Linked DNA regions of Homo sapiens. The protein of the gene in region 2 purifies or fractionates together with the protein of the main gene of each other region. This does not show direct contact. Each region holds a gene or a part of one and is shown on either strand. Other genes may lie near its edges.

What was found. The genes of interacting proteins can lie anywhere in the genome.
Region 1: the proteins of WDR36 (region 2) and UTP6 purify together in Homo sapiens (affinity purification with western blotting, with the first as the bait; one study listed by BioGRID). This does not show direct contact.
Region 3: the proteins of WDR36 (region 2) and GNA11 purify together in Homo sapiens (affinity purification with mass spectrometry; one large-scale study listed by BioGRID and IntAct). This does not show direct contact.
Region 4: the proteins of WDR36 (region 2) and DUS3L fractionate together in Homo sapiens (co-fractionation; one large-scale study listed by BioGRID). This does not show direct contact.

What each region holds. Positions count from the first base shown.
Region 1 is NC_000017.11:31,874,209-31,877,708, reverse strand, and holds part of UTP6 (U3 small nucleolar RNA-associated protein 6 homolog), read left to right. Parts: intron 1-2,295; coding exon 2,296-2,475; intron 2,476-3,500. UniProt on the Homo sapiens protein: Part of the small subunit (SSU) processome, first precursor of the small eukaryotic ribosomal subunit.
Region 2 is NC_000005.10:111,123,348-111,126,847, forward strand, and holds part of WDR36 (WD repeat-containing protein 36), read left to right. Parts: intron 1-457; coding exon 458-577; intron 578-760; coding exon 761-842; intron 843-2,260; coding exon 2,261-2,448; intron 2,449-3,386; coding exon 3,387-3,500. UniProt on the Homo sapiens protein: Part of the small subunit (SSU) processome, first precursor of the small eukaryotic ribosomal subunit.
Region 3 is NC_000019.10:3,104,362-3,107,861, forward strand, and holds part of GNA11 (guanine nucleotide-binding protein subunit alpha-11), read left to right. Parts: intron 1-3,500. UniProt on the Homo sapiens protein: Guanine nucleotide-binding proteins (G proteins) function as transducers downstream of G protein-coupled receptors (GPCRs) in numerous signaling cascades.
Region 4 is NC_000019.10:5,788,364-5,792,393, reverse strand, and holds the start of DUS3L (tRNA-dihydrouridine(47) synthase [NAD(P)(+)]-like), read left to right. Parts: upstream 1-1,230; 5' UTR 1,231-1,252; coding exon 1,253-1,350; intron 1,351-2,058; coding exon 2,059-2,347; intron 2,348-2,674; coding exon 2,675-3,187; intron 3,188-3,995; coding exon 3,996-4,030. UniProt on the Homo sapiens protein: Catalyzes the synthesis of dihydrouridine, a modified base, in various RNAs, such as tRNAs, mRNAs and some long non-coding RNAs (lncRNAs). Mainly modifies the uridine in position 47 (U47) in the D-loop of most cytoplasmic tRNAs.

The DNA.
Region 1 (3,500 bases), on a different chromosome or scaffold from region 2:
GGCATGAGCCATCATGCCTGGCCAAATTTTTGTATTTTTAGTAGGGACAGAGTTTCACTATGTTGGCCAGGCTGGTCTTGAGCTCCTGACCTCAAGCGATCTGACTGCCTCAGCCTCCCAAAGTGCTGAGATTACAGGCATGATCCACTGCTCCTGGCCGTGCCTGGCTTTCTAACTTGGTCTTTCAGGCGTGAGCCACTGTGCCCAGCCTAGATGATTCATCTTCTGTCGGAAGAAACATATCAAACCGTTTTGTCTCTTAGACTGGAGGCTCTATGGGTGGTAGGGAATGCATCTGATTTGTTCACTATTGAATCTAGCACATATAGTGTGCAATAAAAATGCTTGCTGAATGTACTGATTATATACTGTCATTTAATTTTTCACAAATTTGTACAATTGGATTGTTTTTAGGTTTTTTCTCTTTTTCAAATAATGTAGGTATAAGCATTTTGAACAGGTAAAATTTCCTTTCATTCATGTATTTTTTGGACCATATTTGTTAATGTAGAAGTCCCAAATTGAAGCGTTGAGCACTTTCATGACTCTTGCTACAAACTGTCAAATTGAATTTCAGAAAAATTTGCTTTAGTTTATGTTATGTCCAACTCTGTTTGAATATACCTGTTTCCTTGACACTCCACAAATACTGATTTTGTGGATTGATTTTTGTTTATTGATTTTTAAAATTTTTTTGGAGACAGAGTCTTGCTCTGTCACCCAGCCTGGAGTGTAGTGGCATGATCTTGGCCCACTGCAACTTCCTCCTCCCAGGTTTAAGTGATTCTCCCAACTCATCCTCCCGAGTAGCTGGGATTACAGGCGTGCACCAACACACCTAGCTAATTTTTGTATTTTTAGTAGAAACAAGGTTTCACCATGTTGGCTAAGCTGGTCTTGAGCTCTTGACCTCAGGTGATCTGCCTGCCTTGGCCTCCCAAAGTGCTGGGATTACAGGCGTGAGCCACTGAGCGCAGCCTATTTGTTAATTTTCATCCTCTGTTTGGTGAGCATGTGTTCTGGCATAGTGAACTGTTTTGTTTTTATTTATTTATTATTTTTTTGAGACGGAGTTTCGCTCTTGTTGCCCAGGCTGGAGTGCAATGGCATGATCTTGGCTCACCTCAACCTCCGCCTCCTGGGTTCAAGCAATTCTCCTGACTCAGCCTCCCGAGTAGCCGGAATTACAAGCATGCACCACCACGCCTGGCTAATTTTGTATTTTTAGTAGTGACAGGGTTTCTCCATGTTGGTCAGGCTGGTCTTGAACTCCCGACCTTAGGTGATCTGCCTGCCTCAGCCTCCCAAAGTGCTGGGATTACAGGCGTGAGCCACCATGCCTGGCTGTGAACTGTTTTATTAAAAACTTATATGCTGGGCATGGTGGCTCACGCCTGTAATCCCAGCACTTTGGGAGGCCGAGGTGGGTGGATCATCTGAGGTCAGGAGTTTAAGACCAGCCTGGCCAACATGGTGAAACCCCATTTCTACTAAAATACAAAAAATTAACCAGGCGTGGCGATGGGCGCCTGTCGTCCCAGCTACTCGGGAGGCTGAGGGAGGAGAATTGCTTGAACCCAGGAGTTGGAGGTTGCAGTGAGCCGAGATCATTGCGCCACTGTACTCCAGGCTGGGTTACAGAGCAAAACTCTGTCTCCAAAAAAAAGAAAAAGAAAAACAAAAAAACCTAACTTACAGTCTAAATTCTTTAGGTTCTCTGGTTTTTACGTCTTCCCTGTTTTTGGATAACCCTCATGGGTAGGAGCAGTGAAAATAGGAGAAATTCTAAATTGTTCACTTCGTGCCTGTTTAACAGCCATGGAAAATTTGTTTTGATACCTATAAGTTATCACATAGCTCATTTCTTTTCTTTTTTTTTTTTTTTTTTGAGATAGAGTTGCTCTGTCGCCGAGGTTGGAGTGCAGTGGTGTGATCTCAGCTCACTGCAATCTCCACCTCCTGGATTCAAGCGATTCTTCTGCCTCAGCCTTCCGAGTAGCTGGGATTACAGATGCATACCACCACACCCAGCTAATTTTTGTGTTTTTAGTAGAGACGGGGTTTCACCATGTTGGCCGGGATGGTCTTGATCTCCTGAGCTCGTGATGTGCCCGCCTGGGCCTCCCAAAGTGCTGGGGTTACAGGTGTGAGCCACCACACCTGGCCTCTTTTTTATTTTAAATTGTAGTGGAAAGGTTGGTGAAATTCTTGCCTCAAATGAGGCATAGGTTTACATTTACATAGATTGTTTGGGTTTCAGTAATTAATTTTCCAGTCATCCTTCATCTTGTCTAGAGTGTTTCGTTGCTGTGTTATAACTTCCTGAGGGAAGCTCTGGAAGTGGCAGTAGCTGGAACTGAATTGTTTAGAGACTCTGGGACAATGTGGCAGCTGAAGCTGCAGGTGCTGATCGAGTCAAAGAGCCCTGACATAGCCATGCTTTTTGAAGAAGCCTTTGTGCACCTGAAACCCCAGGTCAGTGAGCTGGATCTTTTGTATTCATTATATTTGGGAAACCTTTTAAGACTAGCCAAGGCTCATTTGGAATGTACTTGTCTATTGAGAGCCAACTCTAGAGTGGCATTTGCTATTCAGTGGTGATGGTTCATAGGTTAAGAGTAGAAGAATTTGCTTCTATTTAATATCCTTTATTTGAAAGTTAACCAAATTAAATAAAACTTCCTATTCTATTTAGATATCTTATAAAGTTAGAAATACCAGTAGAATATTAATGTCACTTGCTGAATATAAGCCCAACCTTTTTTTTTTTTTTTTTTAAGATGGAGTCTCGCTCTGTTGTCCAGGCTGGAGTGCAGTGGCGTGATCTCAGCTCACTGCAATCTCTGCCTCCCGGGTTCAGGCAATTCTCCTGCCTCAGCCTCCCGAGTAGCTGGGACTACAGGCGCATGCCATCACACCTGACTAATATTTTCTATTTTAGTAGAGACAGGATATCTCCATGTTGGCCAGGCTGGTCTGGAACTCCTAGCCTCAAGTGATCTGCCCGCCTTGGCCTCCCAAAGTGCTGAGATTACAGGCGTGAGCCACGGTGTATGGCCAGATTCACTTTGCAGTGAATTTTTTATATTAGTAGGTAAAACGTATTCCAGAAGATAAAGTAGGAAAAAAACTACTGCTCATTTGGTGGTTTTTCCTTTTTTTTGAGATGAAGTCTTGTTCTGTTGCCCAGGCTGGAGTGCAGTGGTGCAAACTTGGCTCACTGCAACCTCCACCTCCCAGGTTCAAGCGATTCTCCTGTCTCAGCCTCCCAAGTAGCTGGGATAAGAAGTGCCCACCACCATGCCCAGCTAATTTTTGTATTTTTAGTAGAGACAGGGTTTTGCCATGTTGGCCAGGCTGGTCTTGAACTCCTGGCCTCAAGTGATCCGCCTGCCTCCGTCTTTAAAGTGCTGGGATTGCAAATGTGCGCCACCATGCCTCGCTTTTGCTGCTCATTTGTACGTACCTCTGGGACATGAATGAAGATCAGATAGTTCAGC
Region 2 (3,500 bases):
TGTCAGTCTGCTTCTGGCTCCAAAGTTCCTTTGGAGAAAAGTAATTTAAGAAACTCTTTTGTATTAAGCATTTATGTAAATTTTGCTTTCCATCCTGTTTTGTGAAAGAGTTTGTACTCAATACAAAAGGAAGTTTAAAATTACTTAATTGTTATATCTTCATGTAAATATATTCATATTTCAGGAAAATGAGCTGTGTTTGTCTTAGAACTTCCCCTGTGCCCTGTCACTTTTTTTCTGCCTTATCGGCAAGGGTGCTAGAGATCTGCATTGGGAAGCCCAAGTTAAGGATAGCTGTGGTATTGGTCAGAAGAGATCATATTTTAACATTCTTATGTGAAAGAGTTTCATTCCTCTTTTACTTTTTGGTATTTGTTTTAAAATTGATTTGAAATTAAATATGAGAAACTGTTGGCAAGATAATTCCTATTTTTCTTTCTCATTTTCTCTTAATCAGAAAAAGAATAAACCAAAGGAACCACCCAAAGTACCCAAATCAGCACCATTTTTCATTCCAACAATTCCTGGCCTTGTACCCAGATATGCTGCACCTGAACAAAATAATGATCCCCAGCAGGTAAAAAACAAATTAGAAGATTCTAAGTATATCGGTGTATGTTTGTATGTGTTTTCTGCACTTCTTTACCAAGACCTAGTTTTACAGATATAGGGTAAATTAATGATAGCTTTTAATTACAAACTATACATTTTTGGGTGATACTTGAATTATTTGAATAATGTGTATTTGTTTTTGTTTAAGTCTAAAGTGGTAAATCTTGGAGTTTTGGCTCAAAAATCAGATTTCTGCTTGAAACTTGAAGAAGGACTGGTAAATAATAAGTGTAAGTTGAATTATAAGATATTTTAACTAATATATTTAGCTTATTTTACTGTATATGAGGAGAAATTGAAGGAAATATCAGCGTTCTCAGTAGTTAAGATAGTAAAAATCAAAAAGATTGAAATTTTGGTTTTAATTTGACGTAATTTTAGCATTTATATTAAATAAGCCCACTAAACTCAAATGGTATTGATATTATAAAAATCTGTTGAAGATTTTTCATATATCTAACTTACTTTTTGCTATTGGAGATGGACACAGTTATTGACTATATTTATAATAAGGAGATCCTTCTTGTTGTGAATTAAATGTAAAAGTTTTGTTTGTCGTTTTTGTAGCAAGTAATTTGCAAGTCTTTTGTTTTTATTTATAATTTGTAATTCAGCGGACTGCTTAGGTGATTTCATATATTCCTAAATTATTTTATTAAAAAGGAAATGTTTTAATCTGTCTGTTGTGTTCATATATTTAAATTTCGAAGGCTACAGTCTGTAGCTAATAGTGATTAGCCATAAGAACTGTAATCATTTAAAAAACTGTAGTCACTCTCCTAATAATTTTAACTTGTCCTCTTGTTTTGATTCAAATGCTTTTGTTTTCATACCGAGATTACTTGAGTCCACATTAGCAAAAGTCAGAGAATGATACTGATGAGCCCTTGTAAATGACTTGTTATGTTTATGGGGAGACAAAGAAATAAAAACACTATTGTTTACTATATACTGAAGGATCTAAAAGTGATTAGACTTTTGTCATTGGTGATACTCTTTTTCAGAAAGCTAAAGCATAGTCATTGCAGTTCTCAAATGACTCATAAAAATAGCTGTAAGTGTACTGAGTGTGTTTTCCTAGGGTGCATATGAAACAATTCTTCTAGGGAAAAGAAGTAGGTTTGGGCTGGGTAAGAATAAGGGATGGGGTCTTCCCCCTCTGATTTTATATATTCTGTACTGTTAGTAATATAGTTCCTAATGATTATGTACTTTTATAACTTTATAACAATAGAAAAGAAAAATTATTTTACCTCATCAGATTCCCAATGCTAACCACTATTAATACTTTTGTATGTATCGTTATAGGCTTCTTAATTAGGATTTACTCTGAGAGAAGATATATGAGCATTTTAAAATTCTAACGTGCCTGTTGCAAGGCATTAGATTTTCTTTATTAACAGGAAAAAGGTTTAAATTACAGAAAAAAAATGTGTTTTGAGTACTTTCTCTTATATTGGTGTCATCGTTTGTACTGATTTTCAATTATTTTGGGTTTCATTCTACTACATAATATGAAAAAATTAACCCACAGGAAGAATTTCCTGTACCATTTAAATATATCCTATTTGGGGTATAAAAGGAAAACTGTAATTTTCTAAGTTAAATGATTATAATCAAGTCATAACTGGATTAAAATTTAATGCAGATGACACTGCTCTCAACCTTCTGAAAGAATCAGGCCCATCAGGAATTGAAACAGAGCTGCGAAGCTTGTCTCCTGATTGTGGTGGGTCCATAGAAGTTATGCAGAGCTTCTTGAAAATGATTGGGATGATGCTGGACAGAAAGCGTGATTTTGAGTTAGCCCAGGCATACCTTGCATTGTTTCTAAAGGTAAGTCTAATGTAAGACAGTACTGCCCAGCTTGTCTTCTTCTGGGGCAGTGCTATCTAACAGAACTTTCTGCAAAGATGGGTATGCTGTATATCCATCCTTTCCAGTATCATAGCCACTTGCCACATGTAGCTATTGAGTTCTTGAAATGTAAATAGTGTGATCAAGAAACTGGATTTTTAATTTTATAGAATTTTAATTAATTTAAATTTAAATAACCGCATGTGGCTAGTGACTACCACATTGGACAGCTAGACAGTGCAGCTTGGGAGTCTTGTTTTGTTTTTTTACTCAACTGCACAATAATTTTGACTTTACCCCCTGACATTTTTATGCTATCTGCTTGATCCAATGTGCTGAACCATTAACTTTTCTTTTTTTAGTGGTTAGTTACATTTTGGAAGTTTTTTGTGATTATGAATAGAAAGTTGGGTTTGTTTGTTTTTTTTTCTACTACTGAAATCAAAATGTTCACTTCTATCATTATTAAAGGAGTTTTGATCATTTGACAATAAGACTGTTACTTTTATGATTAATATAGTGGTGAACTCATGTTTTGAGGGTCTACTTTAGTGGTATAATGTGTTGAAGGAGGTAGATGATGCCGATTTTTGGTGATAATAGATTTGATTCTTTATCCCATTTATACCTAAAATGAGTTCACTTGATCTGATTATTTAAAAGTATCAGGACTGTCCTTAGGTGGAGAGGAGTGATGACCACTTTAATTCTACCAAGGAAGTCACAGTATCATAAAGGACCTTATAATAAAAAAAGTTTGATAGAGGAGGGGAAAATGGGAGATAGTAATAAACCAGCGCTTAAGAAAACAAATATTCACCTAGTGTCTTTTGTGGTTCCTTGGTAGAAAAATTGAATCCAGATTAGGTAAAATTTTAATTTTCTTAAATGTTCAATCATCATATTTTTCTTTGCAGTTACACCTTAAAATGCTTCCTTCAGAGCCAGTACTCCTAGAAGAAATAACAAATTTGTCATCCCAGGTGGAAGAAAACTGGACCCATTTGCAATCACTCTTCAATCAAAGCATG
Region 3 (3,500 bases), on a different chromosome or scaffold from region 2:
GTGGTGGCGTGCTGAGTGTACCTGAGGATGTACCTCCTGCAGGCTCCCTAGCGTCTGGGGTCCACTGTGGGGCGGCCTGTGGCAGGCCCACCAGGAACCATGCTTGCACAGGCAAAGCACCTTGCTTGTGGTTGTGTGGGGGGCTCCCTCAGGTGTGGGAGATGTGGGCCCCATTCTCCCAGGAGCCATGGCTGGTGACATGCAGTCAGGTCCATCCTGACGGGCACTGGAGTGCGGGGGACCCAATGGGGACATGAGGGATCCAGCACTGTGGACCAGGGCCAGGTTCATTTGGTTCGCTCAGGAAACATGTACACAGCGCCTTCTGCATAGGGGCTAGGGATGCAGGTGGGCAGGGCAGCCACAGCCCCTGCGCTCAGGAAGCTGGCGAGGCAGGCTGCAGACGGGCACTGCCACACCTCACTGAGGAGGGAATGGCAGAGCCACCCTCAAAGGGCCTGTGCTGTGGGGGTGCTGGGCGCTTCCTGAACGCCGGGCTCTTGGATTTCTGCAGTGGGGGTTCTCCGGGCGTTTGGGAAGGGGAAGGACCTGATGGAAGGGGTAGTTTATATTTAACTCTGGTGCTGAAGCAAGGGTCGCACACAGCTGCCAGTGCCCACGACGGCCTCCTGGGAGGCTGAGCTCACCAGCTCCAGACCCAGTCTGAGGCAGGAACCTGGGGGTCTCACAGCGGGACCGGTGGTGGGTGTGGCCTCGTGGCAGGGAGGGAGGGTGGGAGGGGTGCATGTGAAGTTGGGTTTGACTCGTCACCCGTGGAGTGCGTGCTCCCCTGCCACAGGCAGGGGCCAGGCAGCATCTGTCCTGCAGGACCCTCCCAGCTGCCCTTTCATGGCCGGACCCCTGGCTGGATCCCTGGCTTCCTGCAGTGTTCTCTTTTCCTAACATTTTGTCACCGTCTCAGTCAGCTCGGGCTGCTGTGACAATACTGCAGGCACAGTGGCTTGTAAACTACCCGAGTTTGTCTCATGGTTCTGGAGGCTGGACGTCCAAGATCAAGGTTCTGTGGATTTGGGGGGTTGGGGGGAAGGGGGGGTTGTGCTTCCTGGTACATAGACAGCGGCGCTGTGGATTTGGTGTAGGGGGTGGTTGTGTTTCCTGGTTCATAGACAGCGGTGCCTTCTTGCTGTGTCCTCATGCGGACGGGATCCCTCCTGGAACCATCAGTGCCCTCATGAAAGAGCCCCCCAAGAGCTCCGTGGCGGAAGAAGCTGATCCCGCCTCCCAACACCACTGTCTTAGGGGTGAGAATTTTAACATAGGAATTTGGGGGGATCACAGACATTCATTGCTATGGGTGGGACCACTTGGTGCGTTGCCCTTGGGGTGGCGGTGTGGTCAGTGGTCCATTCCTGCCCAGCGCCGAGCAGCGGTCTGTGCGTGGGGTCTTTGCACCCGTGCACCTGCTGAAGGGTCTCTGGAGCTTTGGCTTTTTGGCTTTTACGAGTAAAGCTGCCGTGGTGCTTGGTGTGCGGTGAGGAGTGGACAGAAGGCTCTGTCCTGGCAGGTGCCCTGCAGTGGCCTGAGACCGGGAGATGAGGGCCGGCAAGGGGCTGTGGACGAGTCCAGAGTGAGGCGGCATCTCGGAGGGGCTCACACATTGTCTCAGGAGGAGTGGGCTGGCATTTCTTTCCAGTGGGCAGCTGTTGAAGATTTTGGAGCCAAAAGAGCGTTCCAGCTCAGATGTCTTTCAGGTGGAGTGTGGCTGCAGGTGGGGCAGGCTGGGTCAGGGTGGAGCCATGTGGGCTGAGGCCCGAGTTGGGGCTGTGGCTTTGGGGCCACATGGCTGCCGGTCGGGTGGGAGCGAGTCTCTGCTGACCAGGGCCCTGGATGTTGAGCCCCAGCCGCGGGGTGTGAGGTCTCAGGCAGGACCCAGGCATTCAGACATTGGGTCCACTGTGTGTGGACCCCTGCGTCCCAGCTCCAAGACGCTGTGTGACGGGAGGCGGCAGCAGCTGAGTTGGCGCGGGGAGACAGGGCGATTTGAAAAGCAGGCTGGGACCAAAGCATCTTGAAAACCCAAATGTAGTCACGTTGCCTGGCTTGAGTGCTGTCCAGAGCCTCGCCCTTGGCCTCTGTACGGCAGGGCTTAACAGTGGCCAGCACCTCAGGGCCACCAGAGGCCCGGGGCCACCTGGGCCTGGCTTGGCTTCCGGTGGCCCAGAACTCCTGCTGGGCTCCTGCCTCCCTCTGCAACCTCTCCTGGCTTTGGTGGGTTATGTGGGAGACACGAGTGGCTTCACCCAGCGGGAGTGGTGCACATGGGTTAACATGCCAGCCACCCAGCTGTGTACGGGCTGCATGTGTGTGTACATGTACATGCATGTGTGCGTGCACCATGCACGTGTGTGCTGATGTACATGCATGCATACATGTATGTGTGGGTGTGCACGTGTGCATTGTGTGCATATATGCACGTTAATGCATATGTATGTGTGCATGCCTGGGTGCATAGGTGTGAGCCACCTCCCTCCCCCATCAGTGTATCCATATTGCCTCTGCAGAGCTCCATGGGGGTCCTTGGCGAGCCAGGGCTGTGGTTGTCATTTTTGCCTTCCTTACAAAACGCAAAACAGGCCGGGCGCGGTGGCTCACGCCTGTAATCCCAGCGCTTTGGGAAGCTGAGGCAGGTAGATCACCTGAGGTGAGGAATTTGACACCAGCCTAACCAACATGGAGAAACACCATCTCTACTAAAAATACAAAATTAGCCAGGCGTGGTGGCGCATGCCTGTAGTCCTAGCTACTTGGGAGGCTGAGGCAGGAGAAACACTTGGGCCCGGGAGGCGGAGCTTGCAGTGAGCCAAGATTGCGCCACTGCACTCCAGCCTGGGCAACAGAGCAAGACTCCATCTGAAAAAACAAAACACAACCCCAAACAGTAGTACCGAGCCAGTTCTCATCTGGGCAGTGACCTGTGGCGTTTCAGACTCCTTCTCGGCCGTCTTGGTCTTCCCGGCATCCTCGCTGAGAGCTGAGGCTTGCTTTTCTGTTTCATAGTTGAGATGTTTATGGCCTGAGGGACCTTGTGTCTTGGGTGCAAAGTTACCAAGGGGCGGCGCCTTCTGACCCGAGTGCAGGGCCCTCCTCGCCTCCTGCCTGCAGCATGGGGCCTGTGCTGGGGTGCAGGCTTGCAGTGTGTGCTGGTCTCGTGTCAGGTGTGGCTTTCAGTGTGTGTGAGTGTTTGCTGTTTCCAGGTGAAACACCCTTCCAAACAAACACGGAGCAGCCATCTTTTGTAATAGCATTTTGTTAGACATAGAGTCTCATCTGGGGGCAGTCTTGACCCATGGGACACTGGCACTGTCTGGGGACATCTGTGGTGGTCACAATTCGGGGGGGTGCTCCTGAGATGGAGTGGGTGGGGGCCAGGGTTGCTGCTGAGCACCCCTCAGGGCCCAGGGTTCAGCACCGGTCAGTAGAGCTGAGGCCGAGGATCCCTGGCCTCAGATTGCATCCCCTCCATGCCACCGCCCTTCTCT
Region 4 (4,030 bases), on a different chromosome or scaffold from region 2:
TAGCACAGCATCTGGCATACAGATGCTCAACTAATTATTTGTTGAAACTAATGTCCTGCATAAAAGTAGTGTAATTTACTTTTTTTTTTTTTTTTTGAGATGGAGTCTTGCTCTGTCGCCCAGGCTGGAGTGAAACGGCCGATCTCGGCTCACCGTAACCTCCGCCTCCCAGGTTCAAGCGATTCTCCTGCGTCAGCCTCCTGAGTAGCTGGGATTACAGGCGCCCATCACCATGCCTGGCTAATTTTTGTATTTTTAGTAGAGACGGGGTTTCGCCATGTTGGCCAGGCTGGTCTCGAACTCCTGACGTGCCCACCTCGGCCTCCCAAAGTGCTGGGATTACAGGCGTGAGCCACCACACCCGGCCTTATTTATTTATTTATTTAGAGACAGTCTCGCTCTGTCCCTCAGGCTGGAGTGCAATGGCGTGATCTCAGCTCACTGCAACCTCCACCTCCCGGGTTCAAGCGATTCTCCTGCCTCAGCCTCCCAAGTAGCTGGGATTACAGGTATGTGCCACAACGCCCAGCTAATTTTTTATATTTTTAGTGGAGACGGGGTTTCACCATGTTGGCCAGGCTGGTCTCAAACTGCTGACCTCAAGTGATCCGCCCGCTTCGGCTTCCCAAAGTGCTGGGATTACAGGCGTGAGCCACCGCTCCCGACCCCTAATTTACATTTTTAAAAACCCTAGCAGGGGCCGGGAACCATGGCTCACGCCTGTAATCCCAATGCTTGGGAGGCCAAAGTGGGAGAATCGCTTGAGCCCAAGAGTTCAAGATCAGCCTGGGCAACCTGGCAAGACCTCGTCTCTACAAAAAATTTAAAAATTATCCAGGCCTATTGGTGCATGTCTGTAGACGCAGCTACTTGGGAGGCTGAGGTGGGAGGATAGCTTGAGCCCAGGACGAGGCTGCGGTGAGTCGTGATCGTACCGCTGCACTCCAGCCTGGGCGACAGAACGAAACCGTTTCAACAGAACAACAAAGACAAAAACCTCCAAAACACCCTAACAGTTAAATTTCCTCAGTCCAGAAGCTGATTGCAGTCCAGTTCGCAATTGGCCAGGCTCTAGTTTATATAGGACCTGAGGCTCCACCCATGTGCAGGCACCGCCCCCGTGGCGTCACGAGCGAGCAATGGCGTCATTGGAACGACATGAGCATGCGCACTTCCCCAGCACAATCAGGGAAGACACGCGTGACCCGGAAGGTCTTCCCGCCACACTCCAGAGCGGATGTGAGGGGCGCCGATGGCGGAGGGAACGGCGGAGGCTCCTCTAGAGAATGGTGGTGGTGGCGACTCGGGAGCCGGAGCTTTGGAACGAGGAGTGGCGCCCATTAAGCGTCAGTGAGTCGCCGGGGCAGGAGGGAAGCTGAAGGGCCTTTTCCGGCACCCATAGCGCGGTCCGAGCTGTGCATGCCGGGAGATTAGGCAGCGGCTGAGGGCGAGAAGCCACCGGCTCTTCATTCCGGGCCGTTCTTCCGCCTGCAGGGTGGTCAGCGGAGGTACCTGAGATCGTGCACGTTGGGGCCTGTCACATGCGCGAAGGACACCACGTGCATGCTAGGGCAGGTGGGATTTGAGGCCAGGCCCGCGCTGCATACTGGGGATTGTAGTCCCTGCATATGGACGTACGGCGCATGTGCTCTGCCAGCGGCCGTTACTGGCGGGTCTTGGGGTTGAAGCGAGTGCCGCGGGGCGTGCTGGGGCCTGCGGTGTTTGAAGGGCCGAAAGGCGTGCTGGGAAATGTGGTGGCTTAGACTCCGCTTCAAGGCATGCTGGGAATTGTAGTTTTTCGCAGCCTAACGTGCGCAGGGACGTTCTTGACTGAACCTGATAATAGTTTCGCGCAACACTTTGGACAGTGAGGACCCAGGGACAAAATAGGTCTTTTTTGAGGCCGTGAGGGGCTCCCAGGCTGGGAGCTGGCTGGTTCTTAAGTAGTGAGCTCCCCATCAGCAGAAGGATTTAAGGACGTGCAAGTGTTTCTAGCCTCCTTTCCCCAGTGTTTATTGACTATGTTCGGAGGGTTTTCCTTTCCCTTTCTGTCGGCAGATACCTCACCACCAAGGAGCAGTTTCACCAATTCCTGGAAGCCAAAGGGCAGGAGAAGACTTGCCGGGAAACCGAGGTAGGAGACCCTGCTGGCAATGAGCTGGCTGAGCCTGAGGCTAAGCGGATCCGACTGGAGGATGGACAGACGGCGGACGGGCAGACGGAGGAGGCAGCAGAGCCCGGGGAGCAGCTACAGACTCAGAAGAGGGCCCGGGGACAAAACAAGGGCCGGCCCCATGTGAAGCCCACGAACTACGACAAGAACAGGCTGTGTCCCTCCCTAATCCAGGCAAGTGCGGCCACGTGAGCATTCCTGCCGGGGCAGGCAGGAGCAGGGTGTGTTTCCTGGCAGCGGGTAATTGTTAGAAAGCTCCTGGGCCTTCAGCAACGAGCAGTGAGCTTGCTCTGATGCCATTCCGTCTTCATTCTCCTCGGGATACATTGTAGGGCTTGTCATTGTTCTCATTGTATAAATGGAGATGCAGAGGCACGGTGAGGTGCCTGACTTGCTCAGGGACACAAGAGCCAGGAGGGGTGATCTAGAGTTTGAACCCTGGCTGCTGGGCTGCCCCGGGGTCTCCCTGTCCTCCCTCACTGCTTCCCTGTTTCCTCGCAGGAGTCGGCTGCTAAGTGTTTCTTCGGTGATCGCTGCCGCTTTCTGCACGACGTGGGGCGCTACCTGGAGACCAAGCCGGCCGACCTGGGCCCCCGCTGCGTGCTCTTCGAGACCTTCGGCCGGTGCCCCTACGGCGTGACCTGCCGCTTCGCTGGGGCCCACCTGAGGCCCGAGGGACAGAACCTGGTGCAGGAGGAGTTGGCGGCCCGCGGGACCCAGCCCCCGTCCATCCGCAACGGCCTGGACAAAGCCCTGCAGCAGCAGCTGCGGAAGCGCGAGGTCCGCTTCGAGCGAGCTGAGCAGGCCCTGCGCCGGTTCAGCCAGGGCCCCACACCCGCTGCCGCTGTCCCCGAGGGCACGGCAGCCGAGGGCGCTCCCAGGCAGGAAAACTGTGGTGCCCAGCAGGTCCCCGCAGGGCCGGGCACTAGCACCCCTCCCAGCAGCCCCGTGCGGACCTGCGGGCCCCTGACGGATGAGGACGTGGTCAGGCTGCGGCCCTGTGAGAAGAAGCGGGTACGTGTTGAGGACAACGTCAGTAGCAGATCTGTCCATCTGGTGTGCGTCTATTAAATACCAGCTGTGTCCACGTTCCTGTTCTAGCTGCCTGGGAGTCAGAGGCTGTGTGCCTTGAGGGAGCTCCTGGCTGAGTCTCCCTCTCTGTGCTCTGTCCTGGGCCCAGCCCTCAGGAGGTGGGGACAGAAAGAGCTGGACAGGGCCGGGGGCGGTGGCTCACGCCTGTAATCCCAGCACTTTGGGAGGCTGAGGCAGGCAGATCATTTGAAGTCGGGAGTTCAAAACCAGCCTAGCCATCATGGTGAAACCCTATCTCTACTAAAAATACAAAAATTAGCCGGGCCTGGTGGCGGGCACCTGTAATTCCAGCCACTCAGGAGGCTGAGGCAGGAGAATCACTTGAACCCAGGAGGCGGATGTTGCAGTGAGCCAAGATTGTGCCACCGCACTCCAGCCTGGGCAACAGAGCAAGACTCTATCTCAAAAAAAAAAAAAAAAAAAGAGCTGGACACACTCTAAGTCTCAGAGGGTCAGGGTCGGGCAGCGGGGGACAAATGTGGGAGGCTTCCTGGAAGAGGGGGCATTGGGACTGGGTTTGGATGGTTAAGTAGAAGCTCTCCAGTGGAGGAGACGATGAGGAAAGGAACATTCCTGATGAAGGGATTGATTGGCACATGCAGAGGCCCAGCAAAGGAGCCAGACCATTTGGGCCAAGTGTGTCCTAGACTGTGGGTAGAAGGGAGGCTCCAGGGCCTCAGCAGCTGGGGTGGAGGCCAAGCTCCACTTGTGTGTATTTTTTTCCCTCCAGCTGGACATCCGTGGCAAACTTTACCTGGCCCCCCT